Linked DNA regions of Homo sapiens. The protein of the gene in region 2 interacts with the protein of the main gene of each other region in a pairwise test. Each region holds a gene or a part of one and is shown on either strand. Other genes may lie near its edges. The genes, in order: PTK6, KIT, SH2D1B, SHC2, TNS3, SHC3 and PLCG2.

Region 1 (3,438 bases), on a different chromosome or scaffold from region 2:
CTGGGGACGCAGGGAGGCGTCGGAGTTGGGGTGGCCACACAGCTCACGCTCTCCCTCCCAGTGCGGGACACGCAGGCTGTGCGGCACTACAAGATCTGGCGGCGTGCCGGGGGCCGGCTGCACCTGAACGAGGCGGTGTCCTTCCTCAGCCTGCCCGAGCTTGTGAACTACCACAGGGCCCAGAGCCTGTCCCACGGCCTGCGGCTGGCCGCGCCCTGCCGGAAGGTAGCCGCTCCGCCCTGACTTGGTCACGCGGGGTCAGGCTGGGGGGTCACAGGCTGGCATTTCCTACTGGGAGAGGTTGGCCGGGCAGCATGGGAGGGGTCCTGACTCACTGACCTGGGGCCCACTGGAGGGAAGCCCATGGTTCTGCAGAGCACAGGTGTTTGCCTGAGTTGGGGGTGGGGCCAGGAGACCATCCCCGGGCCTGGCCACTCTCGGAGAGGCCAGCGGCACTCTGCAGGGTCCTGGCTCCGGTCTGTCTGGGTGTTTCATGCTGGGCTGGGGGCAGCCCCCAGGAGAGTCCACCCTTGTGTCAGACACTCAGAAACCCCCAACCCAGGCTGATCGTGGCCCTAAATCTGAGGCTAAATCCAGGCTCCCTGTGCTGGCTTCAGACTGGCACTTCCTGAAGGATGAGCCCCTGCCCTGTGTCCCCGACTCTTCCTCCAGCACGAGCCTGAGCCCCTGCCCCATTGGGATGACTGGGAGAGGCCGAGGGAGGAGTTCACGCTCTGCAGGAAGCTGGGGTCCGGCTACTTTGGGGAGGTCTTCGAGGGGCTCTGGAAAGACCGGGTCCAGGTGGCCATTAAGGTGATTTCTCGAGGTGAGTGGGCCCCGATCAGGGCTCTGTGTGGCCCCGTGCCTGCCCTGGGCCACCCTCCCACCCCGCCAACAGGGACCTCTGGCCTCGAGCCCCAAGCAGCACCCACAGCGTCCATGCGAGAGTGGTTCCCTTTCAATTGCACCTATGTTTTTACCTAAATACATTTATTATAAAAGAAAATTTTAGGCCGGGCACGGTGGCTCACATCTGTAATCCCCACACTTTGGGAAGCCAAGGTGGGCGGATCACGAGGTCAGGAGTTTGAGACCAGCCTGGCCAACATGGGGAAACCACGTCTCTACTAAAAATACAAAAATTAGCCGAGTGTGGAGGCATGTGCCTGTAGTCCCAGCTACTCGGGAGGCTGAGGCAGGAGAATCGCTTCAACCCAGGAGGCGGAGATTGCAGTGAGCTGAGATCGCGCCATTGCACTCCAGCCTGGGCGACAGAGCAAGACCCCGTCTTGGGAAAAAAAAAAAAGAAAGAAAGAAAGAAAATTTAAAATCCTTGACGTAATGGAAAGCCATTAAAATAGATCACTGGAAATGGGTAAAACTTCCCTGGAACCCGTCTGGGCCCCAGCAGAGGTCTGGCCTCTATGTCAGAGGTCTGGGCCGGGCACAGGAAGAAATCGGGTGGCCACCACAGCCCCGTGGGTACGCCAGGCTGGGGCCCTGTGGGGCCGGCTGCATCTGCCATTTCGTGGCCTCGGGAGCCAGGTGCCCTGTCGGGGGCAGGAGGTCTGTGTGTCCTGCACAGCTGCTGGGTGTGATGGCTGCTGTGTGTGGGGGCAGGGCCTTGGCCTCTTCCTTGGGGCCTGGGGGGTCAGGGGCTGCATCCACCGAGGCCACCCGTCCCCGCAGACAACCTCCTGCACCAGCAGATGCTGCAGTCGGAGATCCAGGCCATGAAGAAGCTGCGGCACAAACACATCCTGGCGCTGTACGCCGTGGTGTCCGTGGGGGACCCCGTGTACATCATCACGGAGCTCATGGCCAAGGGCAGCCTGCTGGAGCTGCTCCGCGGTGAGTGGCATGGGCCGGGGCTCTTGCTGGAGGCAGCGGGGGCACGTGAGGAAATAAAGTGCACACCCCCCCCCCACGTCTACACACACACACACGTAGACACACAGACACACAGACACACACATGCACACACAGACACAGACACAGACACACAGAGACACACACGCACAGACACACATGCACACACACATGCACACAGACATACACATGCACACACAGACACACACACAAGACACATCACATGACACACACAGACATACACATAGACACAGACACACACACAGAGACACACAAAACAGATCACACGGACACACACAGACACACACACAGATCACACGGACACACACAGACACACACACACACAGACACACACTGATCCAGACACACACACAGACACACACAGATCACATTGGCTCAAAGACTTCATCCTCTCTAAGTTCCATTATTTCCTTTCTCACCAAAACCAAAGACAATCGCTGCCAGGGAATGGAGATGCCCGTGCGTGAAGGCGCAGTTTGGATTCCGATGTTAGAATGGGAGGGAACGTTGTGGTATAGGAAAAATGCCGTGTGTGTCTGAGGAGAGCTACACTGAGGCACCACGCACGTTTGCGCTCTGAGCGAAAGGCTCCGTACCCCTCGCCCTCACACAAAGGGCTTGATCATCTCAGACAGTCCCCACGCCCTTCAGGGTCCTCCGGGAGGGAATGTGGGGTAAAACAGGCACCACCAGGCCGCAAGCCGCTGACAGCCATTCTCCTGTTCGAGTTCCCACTGCCTACATCACGCAGTCATGAGCCTCTTCGCTGGTCCTTCTGCGTCCAGCTCCTCCCGCGTCATCACAAACTTCCAGAAGGGAAATCGCTGGGCTAGACCACTAGGAACTGCTCCTTGGTTCTTTTTTTTTTTTTTGAGACGGAGTCTCACTCTGTCGCCCAGGCTGGAGTGCAATGGCGCAGTCTCGGCTCACTGTAACCTCCACCTCCTGGGTTCAAATGATTCTCCTGCCTCAGCCACCTGAGTAGCTGAGATTACAGGCACCTGTCACCACGCCCAGCTAATTATATATATATATATATATATATATATTTTTTTTTTTTTTTTTTGAGACGGAGTCTGGCTCTGTCGCCCAGGCTGGAGTGCAGTGGCGTGATCTCGGCTCACTGCAAGCTCCGCCTCCCGGGTTCACGCCATTCTCCTGCCTCAGCCTCCCGAGTAGCTGGGACTACAGGCGCCCGCCACCACGCCCGGCTAATTTTTTGTATTTTTAGTAGAGATGGGGTTTCACCGTGTTAGCCAGGATGGTCTCGATCTCCTGACCTCGTGATCCATCCGCCTCAGCCTCTCAAAGTGCTGGGATTACAGGCGTGAGCCACCACGCCCAGCTTGCTCCTTGGTTCGTGATAAACAGTTGCCTTCCAGAAGGGCGGTAGCTGGCCTGCAGTTCCAATTTTCAATCAGGCCAGCTGCCCTTTGCCCCGGCCCCTCCTCTGAGCCCGCAGAGCTTGGAGGCAGATGAGACATGGCCCAGCCTCCCCAACCCTTCCCCACCTCAGCTGGCTCAGCTGACCCCAGGCTCTGCTCCACT
Region 2 (3,259 bases):
TGATAATTTTTGGGTTAAAGCTTGTTCTTCTGGGTGTCAAAACATGTTTCAAATTGAACAGCATTTTCCACCCAGTTGCTTTGATTCTTGACAAGAGACCCCTGGAAGGGCCGTGGGTTTCCCAGCAAATTACATTGGTTATTGGGTTGTAGTTGCTGGAGAGATTTACAAGCCTTTTAAATAGGTAAGATAGTGCTTGGTGCCTGGTGTGCCCTTTTAGAAGAGCTAAGCTTGTGCATGTTTTGTCCCCACTTCTTGTATAAAGTTATTTCCTTGGAAAAATGAAGGGGGAAAACAAAGCTTATATTTGTTTTGTCAGTATGACTTGGGTTTTGGCCACAAAGTTCTTGGAAACCACTTCTCTCTTAAGAGTTTCCATCAGTTAGTTGTGATCTTGACACTGTAAGTATGCCTTTTGTTGCTATGTTCGTTGTAGGGACTGCTGTATTGACTATGGGCTTGTTTTCTCCAGATTTACTCCAACTTAGCAAACTGCAGCCCCAACCGACAGAAGCCCGTGGTAGACCATTCTGTGCGGATCAATTCTGTCGGCAGCACCGCTTCCTCCTCCCAGCCTCTGCTTGTGCACGACGATGTCTGAGCAGAATCAGTGTTTGGGTCACCCCTCCAGGAATGATCTCTTCTTTTGGCTTCCATGATGGTTATTTTCTTTTCTTTCAACTTGCATCCAACTCCAGGATAGTGGGCACCCCACTGCAATCCTGTCTTTCTGAGCACACTTTAGTGGCCGATGATTTTTGTCATCAGCCACCATCCTATTGCAAAGGTTCCAACTGTATATATTCCCAATAGCAACGTAGCTTCTACCATGAACAGAAAACATTCTGATTTGGAAAAAGAGAGGGAGGTATGGACTGGGGGCCAGAGTCCTTTCCAAGGCTTCTCCAATTCTGCCCAAAAATATGGTTGATAGTTTACCTGAATAAATGGTAGTAATCACAGTTGGCCTTCAGAACCATCCATAGTAGTATGATGATACAAGATTAGAAGCTGAAAACCTAAGTCCTTTATGTGGAAAACAGAACATCATTAGAACAAAGGACAGAGTATGAACACCTGGGCTTAAGAAATCTAGTATTTCATGCTGGGAATGAGACATAGGCCATGAAAAAAATGATCCCCAAGTGTGAACAAAAGATGCTCTTCTGTGGACCACTGCATGAGCTTTTATACTACCGACCTGGTTTTTAAATAGAGTTTGCTATTAGAGCATTGAATTGGAGAGAAGGCCTCCCTAGCCAGCACTTGTATATACGCATCTATAAATTGTCCGTGTTCATACATTTGAGGGGAAAACACCATAAGGTTTCGTTTCTGTATACAACCCTGGCATTATGTCCACTGTGTATAGAAGTAGATTAAGAGCCATATAAGTTTGAAGGAAACAGTTAATACCATTTTTTAAGGAAACAATATAACCACAAAGCACAGTTTGAACAAAATCTCCTCTTTTAGCTGATGAACTTATTCTGTAGATTCTGTGGAACAAGCCTATCAGCTTCAGAATGGCATTGTACTCAATGGATTTGATGCTGTTTGACAAAGTTACTGATTCACTGCATGGCTCCCACAGGAGTGGGAAAACACTGCCATCTTAGTTTGGATTCTTATGTAGCAGGAAATAAAGTATAGGTTTAGCCTCCTTCGCAGGCATGTCCTGGACACCGGGCCAGTATCTATATATGTGTATGTACGTTTGTATGTGTGTAGACAAATATTTGGAGGGGTATTTTTGCCCTGAGTCCAAGAGGGTCCTTTAGTACCTGAAAAGTAACTTGGCTTTCATTATTAGTACTGCTCTTGTTTCTTTTCACATAGCTGTCTAGAGTAGCTTACCAGAAGCTTCCATAGTGGTGCAGAGGAAGTGGAAGGCATCAGTCCCTATGTATTTGCAGTTCACCTGCACTTAAGGCACTCTGTTATTTAGACTCATCTTACTGTACCTGTTCCTTAGACCTTCCATAATGCTACTGTCTCACTGAAACATTTAAATTTTACCCTTTAGACTGTAGCCTGGATATTATTCTTGTAGTTTACCTCTTTAAAAACAAAACAAAACAAAACAAAAAACTCCCCTTCCTCACTGCCCAATATAAAAGGCAAATGTGTACATGGCAGAGTTTGTGTGTTGTCTTGAAAGATTCAGGTATGTTGCCTTTATGGTTTCCCCCTTCTACATTTCTTAGACTACATTTAGAGAACTGTGGCCGTTATCTGGAAGTAACCATTTGCACTGGAGTTCTATGCTCTCGCACCTTTCCAAAGTTAACAGATTTTGGGGTTGTGTTGTCACCCAAGAGATTGTTGTTTGCCATACTTTGTCTGAAAAATTCCTTTGTGTTTCTATTGACTTCAATGATAGTAAGAAAAGTGGTTGTTAGTTATAGATGTCTAGGTACTTCAGGGGCACTTCATTGAGAGTTTTGTCTTGGATATTCTTGAAAGTTTATATTTTTATAATTTTTTCTTACATCAGATGTTTCTTTGCAGTGGCTTAATGTTTGAAATTATTTTGTGGCTTTTTTTGTAAATATTGAAATGTAGCAATAATGTCTTTTGAATATTCCCAAGCCCATGAGTCCTTGAAAATATTTTTTATATATACAGTAACTTTATGTGTAAATACATAAGCGGCGTAAGTTTAAAGGATGTTGGTGTTCCACGTGTTTTATTCCTGTATGTTGTCCAATTGTTGACAGTTCTGAAGAATTCTAATAAAATGTACATATATAAATCAAGTGGAGTCATTTGATTGTTGAGATTCGTTGAGATTAAACTTTAAAGCATTAAAGTGCAATCATCCTGACAAAGTTTTGTACGCAGTTTTCATAAAATATGTGCAGGGCTATCAGATCACGCTAGGATTTACATGCTTCGAGATTCAACAGATATTAAGAATTTTCATACGTGTGATATTTTCTCATTTTAGTCTTACAACCTGAGGTCTCTATTTAAATTGAAAAATAGATACAGAGAAGGTGCTTAGTATGTATGAGCTGGGTGCTGTCATGTGGGTGAAACATTATGCATGCCCAATTGGTACCGTCCAGACCACTGGAACCCAAACAGAGGCTGAGAGTTCTTCAGCTTGAAACAAAAGGAAGCACCCTGAATCACATAATCTTATTAAGAATGAGGCACCCACACACCCTCAGTCATGACTGTCTTTATTGACGTGACATCTACACCTGCAGAAATGTCTCCTGAAAGGAAAGGGAAGGGGTGAAAAGTGACCTGT
Region 3 (3,500 bases), on a different chromosome or scaffold from region 2:
CAAACTTGAATCGTCTGCACAAGGTCACAGAATGAATTTGAAGTCAGCTGTCTGCCCAGGAACCACTCTTGCTATCCTGGCTGCAAACGCAGCAAGCTCTCTGTCTTGGCCCTCAGGGACTAAAAGACAGCACTTCTCAACAAAATGGAAATTGCTCTTAGTAGGATGAAGCTTTTTAGAGATAATGTCACAGAAAAGAGCATTTGTCTGTATTGAGTTTACAAAGTAAGGCATTGGTGGAAATAGGATTAAGATTGCTTTCTGACCCCCACGTGAGAGATTTTACCACAAATGTTTCCAACTCTAATTTCAATCCTCTCCATCTCAAGCTGGGGCTGGTTCTCTTTATTGGCTTTAAAAGGTGAACCACCATCCCCTGATTTGGTTTTTCAAATTTGGAGATCAGTTCCTTTAGGCTTGGAAAGACCTGTTTTGGAGAACCTTCTGCAGTCTGCAAAAATACAAGAAAGGAAATCACTCATTATCATGCAATTGCGTGTGAAATGTGACACTTCTCAAAGCAGTGGGTTTTCAGGGCTGCCCTTCTATGAGCTGAAAAACTGAAAACAAGTGGCTGGAGCTCACACCACTCCCAGTTCACAGAAACTCTCATTTCTAAGACCAACCTCTGACTTGAGCCACTCTGAGTAAAGAGGATTTGCAATCAAGGGATCCCAGCGCAGTCCATAGTATCAAGTGAACCCCATCCTTGGGAAGTTTACCTGGGGCAGTTCTCGCAGATACACTGTGAAGGGTACCCCTGTAAGGGCTTACGTCTGTACCTACAGGCGGGCTTTGCTATCTTAAGGGACTATCGGAAGTGGACTTCTGATGGGAATGCAAAAATGCAATTAAAAAAAATTCCAACTGTTATTTTAAGTTCAGGGGTACATGTGCAGGATGTACAGGTTTGTTACATAGGTAAACGTGTGCCGTAGTGGTTTGCTGCACAGACCATCCCATCACCCAGGTATCAAGCCCAGCATTCACTAGCTATTCTTCCTGATCCTCTCCCTCCTCCCACCCTGAGCCCTCCAACAGGCCCCTGTGTGTGTTGTTCTCCTCTGTGTGTCCATGTGTTCTTATCATTCAGCTCCCACTTACAAGTGAGAACATGCAGTATTTGGTTTTCTGTTCCTGCATTAGTTTGCTAAACATAATGGCCTCCAGCTCCATCCATGTCCCTGCAAAGGACATGATTTCATTCTTTTTTGACCTAAGCTCCTTTCTGATCCCCATGTGAGAGATTTTACCATAAATGCTTCCAACTCTAATTTCGATCCTCTCCATCTCAAGCTGGGGCTGGTTCTCTTTATTGGCTTTAAAAGGTGAACCACCAGCCTCTGATTTGGTTTTTCAAATTTGGAGAACAGTTAGGCTGCTTAGTATTCCATGGTGTATATGTACCACATTTTATTTATCCAGTCTATCACTGATGGGCATTTAGGTTGATTCCATGTCTTTAAAATATGCATTTTGTATACTTTATGAATTTAAAATACACAATTTGTATACTTGATGAATTCACAATCTCCATGTGGGCAAAACAAAACCAAAAAAGTCCCAATGTAAATAGAAAGTGGGAATGGCAACACAACTCAGTTAAGTTGTAAATAGATGTTTTCTGTTTACCAGCTATACACCACGTACTTTTTTTTTTTTTTTTTTTTTTTGAGACGGAGTCTCACTCTGTGGCCCAGGCTGGAGTGCAGTGGTGTGATCTCAGCTCACTGCAAGTTCCGCCTCCCGGGTTCATGCCATTCTCCTGCCTCAGCCTCCCAAGTAGCCGGGATTACAAGCACCATCACCATACCTGGCTAATTTTTTTTTTTTTTTTTTTTGTATTTTTAGTAGAGATGGGGTTTCACTGTGTTAGCCAGGATGGTCTCGATCTCCTGACCTCATGATCTGCCTGCCTCAGCCTCCCAAAGTACTGGGATTACAGGCGGGAGCCACCATGCCTGGCCCACCAAGCACTATTTTCTAATATAACCTTTTAGAAATAATTTTAAAATGAAAAGAATTTTCTGGCTAGGCTCAGTGGCTCATGCCTGTAATCCCAGCCCTTTGGGAGGCCAAGGTGGGTGGATCACTTGAGGTCAGGAGTTTGAGACCAGCCTGGTCAACATGGCAAAACTCCGTCTCTACTAAAAATACAAAAAATTAGCTGGGCATGGTAGCAGACGCCTGTAATCCCAGCTACTCGGGAGGTTGAGCCAGGAGAATCGCTTGAACCAGGACGCGGAAGTTGCAGTGAGCCGAGATCACGCCACTGCACTCCAGTCTGGGTGACAGCAAGACTCTGTCTTACACACCCACACACACATGAATTTTCTTCCTCTACTTTTGTGTATTTGGTTTTCTTGATCGTCACTGTGGTTTTCATATGGCCACCAAGTCAGACTAGAGAAAGGGGTTGGTGATCAGAAGGTTTTCTGATATGCGCCTGATTAACCTCTGTATTAGAGGTACAGGCTGACATCAAAGTCATCTGCAAGGAGGTTCCTTTAATGCAGTCATTTCAACAAAAGGCATCACTGCAGGCTTCTAAGCTCAAAGCTGCTCCCCAGTGAAACGCCTCTTTGTGTCTGAGTTACAAATGATTTGGATGTCTCCCTCTATTTTGTCCACACAAGAGACAAAACAGGGTACTGAGGAATTATCCAGAATTTCCCAAAGAATAAACAGAAAAAAAAGTCTTAAAATAAGTTGCTTTTTATAAGACATTTTATCTTGAAATTATTTCAGACATAGCAAAGTTGCAAAAATAATTTTTAAAAATTACCATATATTTCACCCACACCCCAATGTTAACATTTTATTATATTTGCTTTTTATTCTCTTTCCAAATATATACACATATATTGTGCATGTATATATACACATATATATAAGCTATTTTCAAAGTTAATTTGCAGACATAATATCCCTTTAAATACTTCAGTATTTCTTCAAAAGTAAGGATATTACATAACCATACTACAATGATTAAAATCAGGAAATTAACCTGGATACAGTACTATTTGTTAATCTTATTCAAAATTTGAATTTATTCAAATTTTGTCAACTGCCTCAATAATGTCCTCTATAGCAAAAGAAAAATAGTATAAGTGAGGTGTTTGGGGATCATTTTATATTCTAGTCTCTTTCAGATATTCAGAGTAAACATTAATATACTGAAGATTCTTAGAAATCTGTAGTCTCCTTAACCTTATATGTAAGTGTTTGAGAAAGATTATTTTAGGATTCTCTGTTAGCAGTTATGTTTATTATACTCTACTTCTTAAGCCAGAGAACTAAATTTAAAAGAAGCAAAATGTTTTTCTGCTTAGCTCTCAGTAAACCAGAAAAATTAAACAAACCCTAAGACTTTCAGCTATCTGATGCTTCCCACTATATTTTCGTACAACTATTGGGCACACTTGACTCCCTAAACACTCTGACCTCTTTCCACCGTCCCTTTCTAGCTCCATCTTGCATCATTGTTGAGTCTTCTAATT
Region 4 (3,500 bases), on a different chromosome or scaffold from region 2:
TGCATGTGTGTGGGGCTTGGGGTGTGTGTGTGTGAGCGTCTGGGCAGGTACATGTGTGAAGTGTTACAGTGGGGGAGGTTTGTCCTCTCACACACATTCCCGTGTGACCTCCTGCGGACCCCACACATCCCTTAGGGCCCTAGTCCCTTCCTTGCTGGGGACTCCACATCCCAGCCTCGGTCGTCCAGGCTGACCCAGGACCCGGCTGCAGTGGGTGCCTGTCCAGGAGACGTCTCCATCCCCACATCCCTGCCCCTGCCCCACTCTTCGCTGTGGTCCTGGTCCATCTGCCGGGCCCCCTGCCCTCGAAGCGGGGCCCCCATGACCGCGTGTGCCTCCTGCCGCCACAGGTCATCGCCAACCACCACATGCCGTCCATCTCCTTCGCGTCAGGCGGAGACACGGTGAGGCCAGGGATGGGGGTGGACCTGCAGCCCTGCCGCCCCCCTCCGGCCGCGAGACCCTCTCATCCTTCCCCAGAGCCCGCCTAACGTACCCTGTGCCCACATCCACTGCCCCATCTCTCTGCATTGCTGGGGTGGGCAGCTGGGAATCCCGGTGGGGGGCCCAGGCAGGTCCAGCTGGCCCCTCCCCGCCCCCAGGACATGACGGATTACGTGGCCTACGTCGCCAAGGACCCCATCAACCAGAGAGGTGAGGCCCCCGGGGAGGCCGGTGGGGGTCCTGTGGCTGGGGGGCACGGCCGTGTGGCTCGGAGGCTGCATGACCAACGTGCCCGCAGCCTGCCACATCCTGGAGTGCTGTGAGGGCCTGGCACAGAGCATCATCAGCACCGTGGGCCAAGCTTTCGAGCTGCGCTTCAAGCAGTACCTGCACAGCCCGCCCAAGGTGGCGCTGCCCCCAGAAAGGTAACCAGAGCTGCCTCCCCCGTGCCCTGGGGACACCCCCAGTGACCTGCCCAGGTGCAGAGCCTGCTCCACCTCCTGCAGGCCTCAGCCTCCGTCCTGCCCTTGTCCCTCCCTCCCTGTCCCGTGAGAATATGGCTCAGCCAGAGGATCCTGTTTCCTCGGCTGTTAACACCCGAGTAAACGCATCCCCGCCTGCCCCCCAGGATTGGGGAGGACTAAGCAAGCTGACTCCCCGGTGTGCCTGAGGCTGTCAGCCCTGCTGCTACAACCAATATCCCTCCTCCAGACGCGCGGCCGGCTCCCGCAATGGGCAGAAAACGGCCTCCGTCTCACCGCAGAACATGTGTAAAGGGGGGGACGTGTCTGTGTGCTGGTAACACGTTTTTTATAGACATTGAAGTGTGAATGCCACGTGTTGCAAAATATGATTCTCTAGATGTTTTCTCAAACACTTAACTTTGATAATTTAAAGATTGAAAGCCCATTCTTAGCTCGTGGGCCACACAGATCTAGGCGGTGAGCTGGATTTGGCCCTGGGCTGGGGTTTGCCAGCTGGCCTTGGAGAAGGAGCTATTTAAGTCTCTATTCATCATTAGAAAGTCAGCTTCCTCCAATGGTGGGAGGGCAGGTGCAGGTGCATGAGCTCCCAGCCTGCTGGTCACGAGGGAGGCGGCATCGCACGCCTGCTCACACTCACCCCTTTGTGCACGGGGACAGCGTGCTTGATGCACGTTGCTCAGCACGCTCCGAAGCTGAGACGGGCTCCTCGCCTGCCTCCAGAGCTGCCTCTGCCTTCCGTAGGCTGCTTCATAATTTATCCCAGCAGCGACTGTGGGCCAGGTGGGGTGCACCCCTCTGGCTCTCGGGGCCGTGCTTGCTGAGGAGCACCTGCAGGATCAATTCCTGCCAGTGCCATCGGGGCCAGAGGGCGGGGGCGCTTTGATCCCAGAGAGTTGCCACCCTGACCGGTGATGTCCTGGTTCTGGGTATAAACTTGGCTCATGCCCTCTGCTGCCGGGCGGGGCCGGAGGTGGGCAGAAAGGAGTGGAGACTGGGTTTGCCAACGACCTGCCTTTTGTGCTACAGCTCGGAAATGTGTGCAACATTCCATTTTATAGATGAGGAAGTAGTGGGCCTGGTCACTGGCTCTAGAAGCGTTTCCCGGTAGGAACCCTCAGTGACAGGTGGGGGGCTGGGATTCGAACTCAGATATTTCCTGCTCCCCCAGAAGCTCAAGCCGTAAGGCTTTAGCCCCCTTGGGCCCTGCCTGTGCCATGGCCGTTGTTGTCTGTCCCCCAGGCTGGCAGGGCCGGAGGAGTCGGCCTGGGGGGACGAGGAGGACTCTTTGGAGCACAATTACTACAACAGCATCCCGGGGAAGGAGCCGCCGCTGGGCGGGCTAGTGGACTCCAGGCTGGCCCTGACACAGCCCTGCGCCCTCACGGCCCTCGACCAGGTCAGCCTCTGCCCTCGGGGGGATGGGGACAGGGATGCCCCAGCTGCTGGTTCCCTGGACCTACCTCCAGCTCTTCTTTCTGCTCCTGTTCTCCTCGATCCTAGAGGAGGGTCTCTCACTCAGACTCACTCACTCACTCACTCATGATTTCACTTACTCACAGACTCACAATCTCACTCACAATCTCACAGGCTCACGATCTCACTCATGATTTCACTCACTCACAGACTCACGATCTCACTCACTTGCTCACTATCTCACAGACTCATGATCTCACTCAGTCTCACTCACTATCTCACTCACAGACTCACGATCTCACTCAGACTCATCATCTCACTCACGATCTCATGATCTCACTCACTCATGATCTCACTCACAGACTCATGATCTCAGTCACGATCTCACTCACTCATGATCTCACTCACTCATGATCTCACTCATGATCTCACTCACTCATGATCTCACTCAGGATCTCACTCACTCACTCAATCACAGGCTCACAATGGGGCGCCGTGTATCTGCCCGGCCTCCTCTATCTCTCACTCACTATCTCACTCACGATGAAGCGCCATCTGCCCGGCCTCCTCTAACTCTCACTCACGATCTCACTCACGATGAAGCGCCATCTATCTGCCCGGCCTCCTCTAACTCTCACTCACGATCTCACTCACGATGAAGCGCCATCTATCTGCCCGGCCTCCTCTATCTCTCACTCACGATCTCACTCACGATGAAGCGCCATCTATCTGCCCGGCCTCCTCTATCTCTCACTCACGATCTCACTCACGATGAAGCGCCATCTATCTGCCCCGCCTCCTCTATCTCTCACTCACGATCTCACTCACGATGAAGCGCCATCTATCTGCCCCGCCTCCTCTAACTCTCACTCACGATCTCACTCACGATGAAGCGCCATCTATCTGCCCGGCCTCCTCTAACTCTCACTCACGATCTCACTCACGATGAAGCGCCATCTATCTGCCCGGCCTCCTCTAACTCTCACTCACGATCTCACTCACGATGAAGCGCCATCTATCTGCCCGGCCTCCTCTATCTCTCACTCACTATCTCACTCACGATGAAGCGCCATCTATCTGCCCGGCCTCCTCTATCTCTCACTCACTATCTCACTCACGATGAAGCGCCATCTGCCCGGCCTCCTCTAACTCTCACTC
Region 5 (3,458 bases), on a different chromosome or scaffold from region 2:
TCAAAGGTCATGATTGGTTCCCCAAAGAAGGTCTGAGAACTCCCCTCCCTCCCTGGACCCACCGATGCCTCTCGAAGCCCTGGAGACAGCCGTTGGGTGAGGGTGGGGCCCCCACTTTTTACCAAACTAGTAAACCTGACATTCCAGGCCCATGAGGGGAAAGAGGATCTTCCAGCTCTGCAAAAACAAGAACAAACAACATCACCGTGAATTGGCCTTTCCTGAAAGTGACTTATCTGACACATCTCTGTAGCCACATGCTTTTTGGGTAGAAGAAGCTGGGCATGGGTGCACCCCACCCCCTAGGGTCCCCATGGGAAAGGGACATGCAAGGAAACAGCACAGAACACGAGGTGGTCCCCATGTCCCTGGCACACTAGCATTCCGGGGGATGAGGAATCCCCAGCCCTTGAGGCAGAGGTGCCGAGTGACTGCCATGCTTCGCCCGTCCGCATGGGCGCTTCTGTCCAGCTGCACCCGAGGCCGGGGGTTTCCCTCACCTCGGTCTTCCCAAGATGGAGATGCTAACGAAACTGAGAAGGGGGCGTATGTTTGACGAAGGTTTGTGCAAGTCAGGCCCTTCTGGAACACAGCAGGGCCTACAACGAGGGGCCTTTGCGATGGGCTGTGAGGATGGGGGTGGTGGGAAGAATTGGCCACGTTGGAGACCCCATGCCACCCCACCATGGTGAGTGCTCTGTGCCTCCTGCTCACCTGTGGTGAGCTGGGCGAGCTGGGCGAGCTGGGCGAGCTGGGCTGGGGAGAGCCTGTGAGGACCGAGAGGAGAAATGAGAAGAAGGAACAAAAATATTATTTCTATGTAATTTATATTTTACTTATGCCAAATTATTTATGATAATTTGCCATTGCTATACTGTACCAGTGTCAAATGCTGCAGCCTGCCAAGCTGTGATTTTGTGAGGCTTGTCCCTATGTAGGATGCACCGCAGGCCCCTGGCCACTGAAAGAGTGTGCAGTGGACTGTGGGTCTCCCATATGCGGTGCCGCCCAAAGGTGGCTTTGCCTCAAGCAACCTACCCTGATGTTTTACTCATTGGAATGTTTTTCCCCGATTGTGGATGACTTCTTTTCTGATGGAGAGAGTCCAGGAGGGATGGAAAACTCCTGGATTTAAGCTCAGCATCCCCCACATGGGCTTTTCGATCATCTTCAGGCCTGAAGCTGCACGACCTGAAGTTCGCCTGCATTTATCAGCCCTCTTTGTGCTGCTCCTTGCCACCTTGGGGTTCCTGCTGGGGACCATGTGTGGTTGTGGCATGTGTGAGCAGAAGGGAGGATGAGGAAAAAGAGAAGAAACCCCGGTACTGACAAGCTGTTTTTGAGTGCCACTGTTTGCCATCATCTAAGCCACTGAATCAAGTGTATTTCAGGCTTATTTCAACATTCCAATGCCCTGGTTTTCCTGCTTGAATCTGTTCGTGGTCAAAGGTTTGGGGGAATTTGTGACCCTGGAACATCCCCAGAGTGAAAGATGGAGCTGGGCCACATCAGAATAAGGCCTTGGCCCCATCCTCTCACAGCCTAGGTGCTCTGCAGGCATGCTGACTGTCCTGATTGCGATCCAGCCCGAAATTCCCTCCTCTGCTTTCAAAAGTCAAATCCCCCATTCTTAGGCCACACTGGTGTCACAAGCTCCTGTCAGGGAGCTGGGGTTTGGGAATGTGCTTTGTGAACTCTGCTTTAAAGTGAGGGGCCGAGGAAAACTTAGAAACAGGCAGAGTTGGAAGCAGCCAAATCACAGTGGGTGTTGTGTGTGTGTGCGTGTGTGCATGCGTGCGTGTATGCGTGTGTGAAAGCAGGTGGACCATTCCACTTTTTAGCTCCTATTGATGCACCAAACCAAGTGCCTCATTTCTGTGCCAAATGTTTGCCTTGGTCGTTGTGGACCTCCTTCTCTAACTTGCGGTGGCATGACTGTCAGGAGGTGCTGGCATTTTCAGCAGATCCTCATGTGTTGACCCTGATGTCTTTAGCAGAGGCCTCTAGCATCTCGGTTTTTCATCCACTGCAGGAATGTGGCCACAGGGAGCAGAGGTTTGTACTTTCCCCAAGAGGTCCTCATCCTGAGACGGTCTCTACCCATGTTTAACCCAAAGAGTGCAGGCCAGGTTCCTTATCCTTCTGATGAAGGATGAGAGAGCTCATTTAGAAGTCAGAGCAAACTAGGGTCTCAGTATTGAGAAACGCAGCCTGCCAGGGAATCACAGAGACATCGGGGTGCCCGCGATGGCCCTCATGAAGCCATGCCTCGACGGCATTCAGGAAGCCCTGCAAACGTGCTTTTTGAACTCATTGGCCAGGTGTGATTTTTACACAAGGTAAACGTGGTCAAGGGCATCGGGGAATTTGCTCCAAGCAGATAGCTCCCTCTGAGGAACCAAAGGAAGCAAGTTTCCACGATTTCTGAAGAGCTGGTATAGGAAGTTTCTTTCTTCCTTTTGTGTTACATGTGCATTAAACAGAACAAGCTGTGTGTCATCACAGATTGTACTGTGGGCTCAGAAACCGTGAGAGAGCCCCCACCGTGGACACCGGCTCTAGGGCCACAGGAAAAGGAACGTTTCCAGGCATTTTGTCTCCAGGGCTCCCGCTGGACAGGCACGTACTGCCCTGGGGAGTAAATGCGGAGAGTTCACGAACTGTGCCCAACGCATGTTATAGCCAGGGTCCTACTAACTACTCAGTAAAAGAACGTATTGTTGTATTCCTCCAGTGTTAAGCTATAGCCATGTTAAAAGTCACTGTGCATTTATTCTCAGCATCAAATACCTTGTAACGTCTTCTCTGCCTTGTTAGTGCATATTTTTACTTTTCTGATACTGTAAAGAATATATCCAGTATGTAAATGAATGTTCTATAAATCTTTTGTATAGTCATTTTCTCTGCTCCTTAAATATCATCTCTATTCAGAGTATAATAAAATTATGAACTTGGTAAGCCTCCGTGAGACGGTATTTGTGTACCCTGAAGTATGTTTGTGTGTGTTTGCACATGTGTGTATGCGTGTGCATGTGTGCACTTTTGTGTATGTGTCTCTGCAAATGTGTGCATGTGCTTGCACAGATGTATCTTTGTCCACATGTGTCTGTGCGTCTGCGTGTGTGCTCGTTCATGAATGTGTGTCTGTGTGTTTACAAATCAGTGGATTCAGTTATAAAATCACAAATGTTTTGCTGTCAGGAATATATTAAGATTTCTGCCCAGAGACCTTTGAAATGTTATATTCAAAGATCTTTGAAGATTAACCACAATGCAGTGTTGATAATGGGTCCTGACATGTTTTCGATGTTGCTATGAATACCCCTACACACACACTGGCTGCAGAAACACACCCCTGAAGTGGGCCAGCTCCTGAAGGACCTCCCAGTGTCTATTGAAGTGGGCACTAAAAGTGAATATTGAGACTGGTGGATTCACTTACACATCAACAGATGCTG
Region 6 (3,500 bases), on a different chromosome or scaffold from region 2:
GTTATTTAGAATTTTTGAATAGTTCTACCGGTATCCTTACTTTAAAAGATTTCTGGTAGATAGAAATGGGCCATCTTTATCATATGACTAGATACCAATAGTAAAATATAAAGGTTTAGGGTTTGGGAAAGGATGCATTATTCTCTTTGATATAATTTTTTTCTAAATTAAAAATAAAGCCCCCAAATGTTTTCTAGTTTCCTGGAAAATTTATATACTGTATTATAGATTTTCCCCCTCAAAGAAATACCTACTTACAGGTGATATTAGGATATTGCACATATGAATTATAATTCAAAAATATTTCAACTTAATCTGAGAACAGGGACTGTAAAATACAGAAGTCTGGTGAATTTTGATCATCTAGGAAACATTAAACTATTTGAGCAACAGCTTAGAATGTGAATTAATGAAGGACTTAAAATTTAAACATGGAAGAAGTTCCTGAGCAACAGTAGAATTCAAAGCTCAAAGCATGTCTAATTGGTCCATCATTGAGTTTGCTGCTAAATAACAGAATGGGGCTATGCACACAGAAAGGCTGCAGCTTACTCTGCCTAGAGGTTTATATTCTTTTCAGCTGGGCCTCATTGGCAGCACCTTTTTACTCCCCTAAGTATCTTGACATTTCCTTTTTTCTTTTGGTGACGTAAAAGAAAGAACAAGGAACTATGCTCTTGATAGAAAAGAAAAATCCAACAGCAAAGAACAATGACTATTTTCATTAAATTTCCATTTTAAAAGTATTTGATATTTGGACCTAAAAGAAATACCAATGAGTATTGATTACGGTGCTGCCCACCTTTAAATTATCTTATCCTAAAGTCAAGCCTGGGTAGGACCCCAATCACTCAAGGAGGCTGCTGGTCTTTAGCAGGTTCAAAAGGCAATATCCTGGTCCTCCACCTTCTCTGTCCTCAGATCCACGGTGGGGAAACTGTAGGAAGGAATATGAACAGTGCAGGGGACAGGAGGCAGGGGTTCAGTTTTTAAAGAGCCAGTGGGCCATCTGAAGACAAGCACAGCCTTGACATTCAGCTCTGAAACTGCCTGCTGGAGGGGCGAGGCTGGAGCAGGAAGCAATGCTGTGTGGGCTGCACCGGGTTTGCCTTTGGCCCCAGCGTGGTCCCCAAAAGACGGGCTCCTTCTTAGAGCACATCACAGCACAGACTTCAAAAGGATAAGAAGTGACCATATTTAGAAATGACCCAAGTGCCAAGGGCAAGAATCAGGAGGCCCAATGTAAAAGCAATGGTTTTAGGTGCCCACTGCTCAGAGCTATTCCAACAGCGTCAGCATTCAGTGAGCCAGCAGATTACGCCATTCATAAACACCTGTGAAGGCTCCAGCGAAGTTACATAGGTTTCAGCTTGTGGAGTGTTGTATATTTACTGACAGTGAAAATGGCGAGCTATTTATAGGAGATTTAACGATCAGAAAAGTACTGCATTATTTCCTGATACACTGGACCCTTCCTGATATGCTTCCCTTTTGGAACAAAGCTCTGTTTTTACAAGGACTCTTTAAAAATTATTTTATTACTCCCATTTGTGCATCTAATGATATTTGGGGTGGTATAAATCATTTGCTTTATTTGTAAATGCTCTACTGCCTTTTATAGGTGGTCTTCGTAAATTACATTTACTCAAAAATTTATTCTTAATTTTTTTCACTTGACAAAGTGTATAAAAATATCTTAAATTTTCATTTTCTCAGAGCTGTATTCTTTTGGTAACTGTGAGCAAAGATCATACAAAAGTTATTTTAACTATATTAAAATAACTATATCAATTCTACTATAATATTGTAGAATTTTATTTTACCTCTAGACTGAAAAATTGATTTTGATGTGGAGTTGAACTTTAAAAAGTTGATTTTTTTCTCAAAATTCTTTCGAAATCTTATGATATGGATGGCTTACACGTAAATATCTAAATGGTTTGAAAAATAGTTTAAGAATTTCTTTTGACATTAATATATAAAGTTATTAATTTGATCTGGATAGTGAGTTGTCTCTTTTTATGTGACACAAACATAGATGTGTTAAAGGCACACACACACCACACACATATACACAAACCACACACACACCTCACATATACACACACATATGCACATACACACCATGCACCCACACACAACCATACAGACACTGCACACACACAACACACACACCCCACAGCCCACAGGTAGATGACTTGTGATGACTTTGGATGGGGGCTGTTTTCTTTCTTGTTAGAAAATAGGAAATGTCATATTTCTAGAAATACCCAATTATCTCAGTCATTTCTTTTATATTCATGTTTAAGAAAAAGATAAGCTACGACAAAACTTCCATCCTATAAAGAACAGATGGCTGCTTCTCTGCCTCCGCACGGTGTCTTACCTTTGAGTATATGTCATAGTTTTGAGGAATATATGATTACTATCATTAAAGCAGAGTCCTGGGAACAGAAAGCCTGGGCAGCAAACACGTGAACCCACTTGCAAGACTGGCTTTCCAGCCAACAGGCTGGCCCTGCAGGATGTGCCGGTGCTGCTGGCCTGCAGTGCCTGGCTTAGGGTAGGGGACATTAGAGCAGACACCTGGCCTGGTGAAGGTCCTGGACTGGTGAAAGGCAGGACACCTGGGCTGCAGCTCCACCGCCAGCTTAGTGTGGGGCTAGAGCAGTCAGCTCACCTCTCTGGACCTGGCTGTCCCTGGCTGCAGCAAGTTGAAGGCAGGGTTGTGCTGGGGTTGGTCTCTATGGGTTGGAGGCCTGGCCGAGGCAGAAATGGTGGCATCTGTATTGTTTTTTGCACCAGCATCTAATGTAATTGGAAGAGACGGGCCCAGGGAAGCACACTGCAGTATCAGGAGTGTGCTCACCTGATGGACACCTGCTGGATCACTGGGGCCAGGGCCAGACCCTGCAGTACAAGGATCCAAGTCCATGGTGGGGCTCAGAGGAAAGCAACAAGGAAGAGCCAGCATGTTCAATGAAAATACCCAAGGGCAGTAGAGTTAGTGAATTATTTAATTCATAAATAAAATGGTTTCAGATGCAATGGAAAGAAATGACCAGTTATGTGTGTTTCCTGGGTAAAGGACAAGAAAACAATTTTGCAATTTATCATAAGAGTTCTATAGTATGTGGTGGAAAAATAATATCTTTAAGGTGGGAGGCAGTGAGCATAGGAACAGCCTACTGAGTGGGTGGATGTTGACCATCGTGTGTGTGTGTGTCTGTGTGTGTGTGTGTCTGTGTGTGTGTGTCTGTGTGTGTCTGTGTCTTCGTGTGTGTGTGTGTCTGTGTCTGTGTGTGTGTGATGGGGTGTGGGGATGTGCAGCTGCACAATATGCCTTACAAGTTGGTTTTGGTCTTACAAGTTCATAATTACTCATTTTCTGTTGAGTTAAAAAACAAAACAAAACATTTTGACCCCACTGTGATTTTGCCTCTCCCCTCCCAACCAAAACAACAACAGTGTGACAAGGATCCACTGAGGGTCCACTGGGA
Region 7 (3,500 bases), on a different chromosome or scaffold from region 2:
CTGGCACAGGAGAGGCACTTTACAAATATGTAGAGGGCAAGGAGAAGTTGCTGCAGACCTGTGTTCCCCTACTGCCTGGTCCAAATTCCCCATCCGTTTCCCTGGAGAGCTACTCACCCTCCACCACCCTGCCTGACCAATCCCTTTGTAGCACTCATCACAAAATACTACACTGATTTCCTTATGTGCTCAAACCTCCTCAGTGCTTCTCAGTGAAGGACAGTGACGCTTCACCCCATACCCTGACCAGAGAGGGTTTGAAAAAGTGTGTGTCCTGGGGCAGGGATGTTATTTTTGATTGTTACAATGACTTAGGGTCCCAGACAGACATGCAGTGGGTAGAGACCAGGGAAGTTCAACATCCAAATACAACAGGATCAGTCCTCACACCCCAACTCTTTGAGAAACACTGTGTGGACTGAGCTTCCCTGACAGTGGGCCATGGGGTGAGGTGGGGAGCGGCCATCCTTGCTGATTGATTCACTGAGCCAGCATTCACCAACCACCAACTACATCCCAGCCAATGTTACATAAGCAGGAACAGGTCAAAAGCAAGAAACACTTGGAGTAAGGCGATGTCTCTCATCCCTGCCAGACCATTAGCCTGAGAGAGCAAGGACTGGGCTGTTTTTATCACTCCTGCATCTCTGGAGCCCAGCACAGGGCCCGGCACACAGTAGGTGCTCACCAAACATCTATTAACTTCTAAAAAATAAAAACTTCCATTCTCAAGACACCTCCAATCTCATGGGGAAGACAAGCTCACAAACTGAATGGGGCGTGTATGTAAGTCAGGCAATCAACCTGAGGACCCACCCAACCTCTTCATTCACGCGGTCCCATTGAAGTGACCCCAACCCCATCCCCAGATGGCCTGTCAGAATCATGCCACCTGGCTCAGGGAGGGGGCCATCCTTTCTGCCGGACACTGTCCTGGCAGCCCAAGGTACAGCCACCTGAGACAGAAGCTGATGGAGAGTAACGCCAGCATGCACATACAGGTGGCATCCTGACCATCATCAGGTGAGGCCCCGATCCGGTTGTGTCAGAGCTGTCTCACCGCTTGGGCACCTCAGTTTCAGCCAGTTGGGTTTAGTTGCCATCATTTGCACAGGATGACAGCACAGTGGGAGTGCCAACACCCCACCTGGGGCCTGGCACACAGCAGGTTTTCAATCCGTGTGCAGCGGACTGAACACACCTCCTCCCCATCCAGGCTGAGGAGGTACCACTAAGAGGCTTAGGGGAAAGAGCAAAGGGCAGAGGCACCAATGCTGAGAAGCCCAGGTCACCCTCTTGGGAACAGAGAGTACAGAAAAGCCATGCTGGTGGGAGGCTGCTCTCTGGCTGGAGCCAGTACACAGTAGGTCCTCAGTAAACTATAGTGATAATGACCGTCACCACGGTCCCCAGGGAGGTGGCTCAGGCATAGTGGTGCAGGCAAGGAGGAAGGGAAATCCAAACGCCCAGGGGGCAGCCTGGCAGGGTCACCAGGGGATGGGATCAGGGCAGAGGGAATGGGGAGAGGAGTGGACAGGGGCAAACCACACACCCCACAGTAGCTGCCATGCAGCCAGCACCACCGCGCCCATGTGGAAACACAGGCCCAGAGCATCCACTGCCTCCCATTTTTCACAAGAAGCAATCTGAGTTTTTCAGTGAAATTTCTCAGTTTTTCACATCAGTGTACAAAAGACGCCCACAGGCCTCTGGCTGGAGATTTGGCCCCCAGGCCTCTGGCTAGAGACTCTGGAGTGAAGAGCTTAGGCTTTGGAGACGGACAGGCCTGCATCTGAACCTCAAACTCAGTTGACTATGAGGCTGTGTGACTCCAGGCAGGTCACTTAACCTCTCTGGTCCTGTTTCCTCCCTTGCAATAACTAGACCTACCTCTCACAGGCTGTAGCAAAGGATTCAATCAGATGAGGCCTTGAAGGCAGTCCAGTGTCTAGAACACGGTTAGGAACTCAACATATAGCAGACTGTTACCACCGTAAGAACATGCAGGGAAACCCTGGGGCTGGGGAGATGGAGGGACAGTAGGCTACACGGAGTCTGAGTCACTCCTCGGCTCCTTGTCATTAGTGGAAGTGGGAGAATCTGGCGTTTTGGGGTAACATTAGAGAACCACAGGCCTAGAGGTGGTTGGGCAGCAGCTGCAGTTGGGAGGAAACCAGATCTATATCATCACAGGCCTGGGCTGCCTGGGCTGTCTGGGCTCGAATCCCAGCCCCACCACTTAGTGGCTGCATGCTTCAGCAAGTTACTTAATCTTGCTGTGCCTCAGTTTCCTCCTCTGAGAAACACGGATCATGGTCATGTCAACCCCACAGAGTTACTGGAAGCCAAAGTGAGTTACTACAGAACATCCTGCCCTGGAGAACGCAGACTGTGCCTGGCACGCAGGAGCGCACATTCTCGCAGCGGCTTTTGCTGTGGTGGTTGTTGTTGTCGCTGATGCTGGGGGGGCAGGGCACTGCAGGTGAGCCTCCACCTGAAGTTCCCCCTTGTCTCTCCGCATCTGTCCTTGCCAAGCCCCTCTGTAGAGCATGTGCCTCCCACCCTCGCACCCACCTGAAGGTGATGGCATAGGAGTCGCTCCCCTCTCGCTTCCGGATCAGGAAGGCCCCGTCCCGGGGAATCCTCATCAGCATGTCCTCTGCCTCTCCGCGGCTCAGGCTGTCATAGTACCACCTGCGGCACAGGGCCAGGGAAAACGACCAGGTGAGCGGTCTCCAGGCTGTCAGTGGGCCACCCGCAGAGGACAAGATAATGGCACCAGTGACACCTGGAACCTGGCCCTGGAAACGACCATGGAAATCACACAGTGGGCTTCCCCAGACAAAGGCACCTCAGCAAAGAGAATTTGTGAAAAGAATAGTGGAAGACCCCAGGGGTCTGTTTCAAGCCCAAAATAATACATTGGGCCGAGCACAGTGGTTCACACCTGAAATCCCAGCACTTTGGGAGGCTGAGGCAGGAGGATCACTTGGGGTCAGGAGTTTGAGACCAGCCTGGCCAACACAATGAGACCCCCATCTCTATAAAAAATAAAATAGCCTGGGCACAGTGGCTCACGCCTGTAATCCCAGCACTTTGGGAGGCCAAGGCAGGTGGATCGCGAGAAGCCAGGAGTTCAAGACCAGCCTGACCAACATGGCGAAACTCTGTCTCTACTAAAAATACAAAAATTGGGCCAGGCGTGGTGGCTCACGCCTGTAATCCCAGCACTTTGGGAGGTTGAGGCGGGTGGATCATGAGGTCAGGAGATCGAGATCATCCTGGCTAACACGGTGAAACCCTGTCTCTACTAAAAATACAAAAAATTAGCCAGGCATGGTGGCAGGCGCCTGTAGTCCCAGCTACTCAGGAGGCTGAGGCAGGAGAATCACTTGAACCCAGGAGGCAAAGGTTGCAGTGAGCCGAGATCATGCCACTGCACTCTAGCCTAGGCAACAGAATGTGACTCTGTCCCAAAAAAAAAAAAAAAAAAAAAAAAA

Evidence for each region.
Region 1: the proteins of KIT (region 2) and PTK6 interact in binary tests that used the Homo sapiens proteins (3 or more experiments, as listed by UniProt).
Region 3: the proteins of KIT (region 2) and SH2D1B interact in binary tests that used the Homo sapiens proteins (3 or more experiments, as listed by UniProt).
Region 4: the proteins of KIT (region 2) and SHC2 interact in binary tests that used the Homo sapiens proteins (3 or more experiments, as listed by UniProt).
Region 5: the proteins of KIT (region 2) and TNS3 interact in binary tests that used the Homo sapiens proteins (3 or more experiments, as listed by UniProt).
Region 6: the proteins of KIT (region 2) and SHC3 interact in binary tests that used the Homo sapiens proteins (3 or more experiments, as listed by UniProt).
Region 7: the proteins of KIT (region 2) and PLCG2 interact in binary tests that used the Homo sapiens proteins (3 or more experiments, as listed by UniProt).

The regions. Positions count from the first base shown.
Region 1 is NC_000020.11:63,530,939-63,534,376, reverse strand, and holds part of PTK6 (protein-tyrosine kinase 6), read left to right. Parts: intron 1-61; coding exon 62-225; intron 226-672; coding exon 673-826; intron 827-1,689; coding exon 1,690-1,851; intron 1,852-3,438. UniProt on the Homo sapiens protein: Non-receptor tyrosine-protein kinase implicated in the regulation of a variety of signaling pathways that control the differentiation and maintenance of normal epithelia, as well as tumor growth.
Region 2 is NC_000004.12:54,737,957-54,741,215, forward strand, and holds the end of KIT (mast/stem cell growth factor receptor Kit isoform 1 precursor), read left to right. Parts: intron 1-472; coding exon 473-601; 3' UTR 602-2,759; downstream 2,760-3,259. UniProt on the Homo sapiens protein: Tyrosine-protein kinase that acts as a cell-surface receptor for the cytokine KITLG/SCF and plays an essential role in the regulation of cell survival and proliferation, hematopoiesis, stem cell maintenance, gametogenesis, mast cell development, migration and function, and in melanogenesis.
Region 3 is NC_000001.11:162,398,637-162,402,136, forward strand, and holds part of SH2D1B (SH2 domain-containing protein 1B), read right to left. Parts: intron 452-3,500; coding exon 287-451; intron 1-286. UniProt on the Homo sapiens protein: Cytoplasmic adapter regulating receptors of the signaling lymphocytic activation molecule (SLAM) family such as CD84, SLAMF1, LY9 and CD244. In SLAM signaling seems to cooperate with SH2D1A/SAP.
Region 4 is NC_000019.10:433,534-437,033, reverse strand, and holds part of SHC2 (SHC-transforming protein 2), read left to right. Parts: intron 1-350; coding exon 351-404; intron 405-602; coding exon 603-654; intron 655-742; coding exon 743-869; intron 870-2,168; coding exon 2,169-2,325; intron 2,326-3,500. UniProt on the Homo sapiens protein: Signaling adapter that couples activated growth factor receptors to signaling pathway in neurons. Involved in the signal transduction pathways of neurotrophin-activated Trk receptors in cortical neurons.
Region 5 is NC_000007.14:47,274,654-47,278,111, reverse strand, and holds the end of TNS3 (tensin-3), read left to right. Parts: coding exon 1-36; 3' UTR 37-2,958; downstream 2,959-3,458. UniProt on the Homo sapiens protein: May act as a protein phosphatase and/or a lipid phosphatase. Involved in the dissociation of the integrin-tensin-actin complex. EGF activates TNS4 and down-regulates TNS3 which results in capping the tail of ITGB1.
Region 6 is NC_000009.12:89,172,319-89,175,818, reverse strand, and holds part of SHC3 (SHC-transforming protein 3), read left to right. Parts: intron 1-3,500. UniProt on the Homo sapiens protein: Signaling adapter that couples activated growth factor receptors to signaling pathway in neurons. Involved in the signal transduction pathways of neurotrophin-activated Trk receptors in cortical neurons.
Region 7 is NC_000016.10:81,911,791-81,915,290, reverse strand, and holds part of PLCG2 (1-phosphatidylinositol 4,5-bisphosphate phosphodiesterase gamma-2), read right to left. Parts: intron 2,695-3,500; coding exon 2,575-2,694; intron 1-2,574. UniProt on the Homo sapiens protein: The production of the second messenger molecules diacylglycerol (DAG) and inositol 1,4,5-trisphosphate (IP3) is mediated by activated phosphatidylinositol-specific phospholipase C enzymes. It is a crucial enzyme in transmembrane signaling.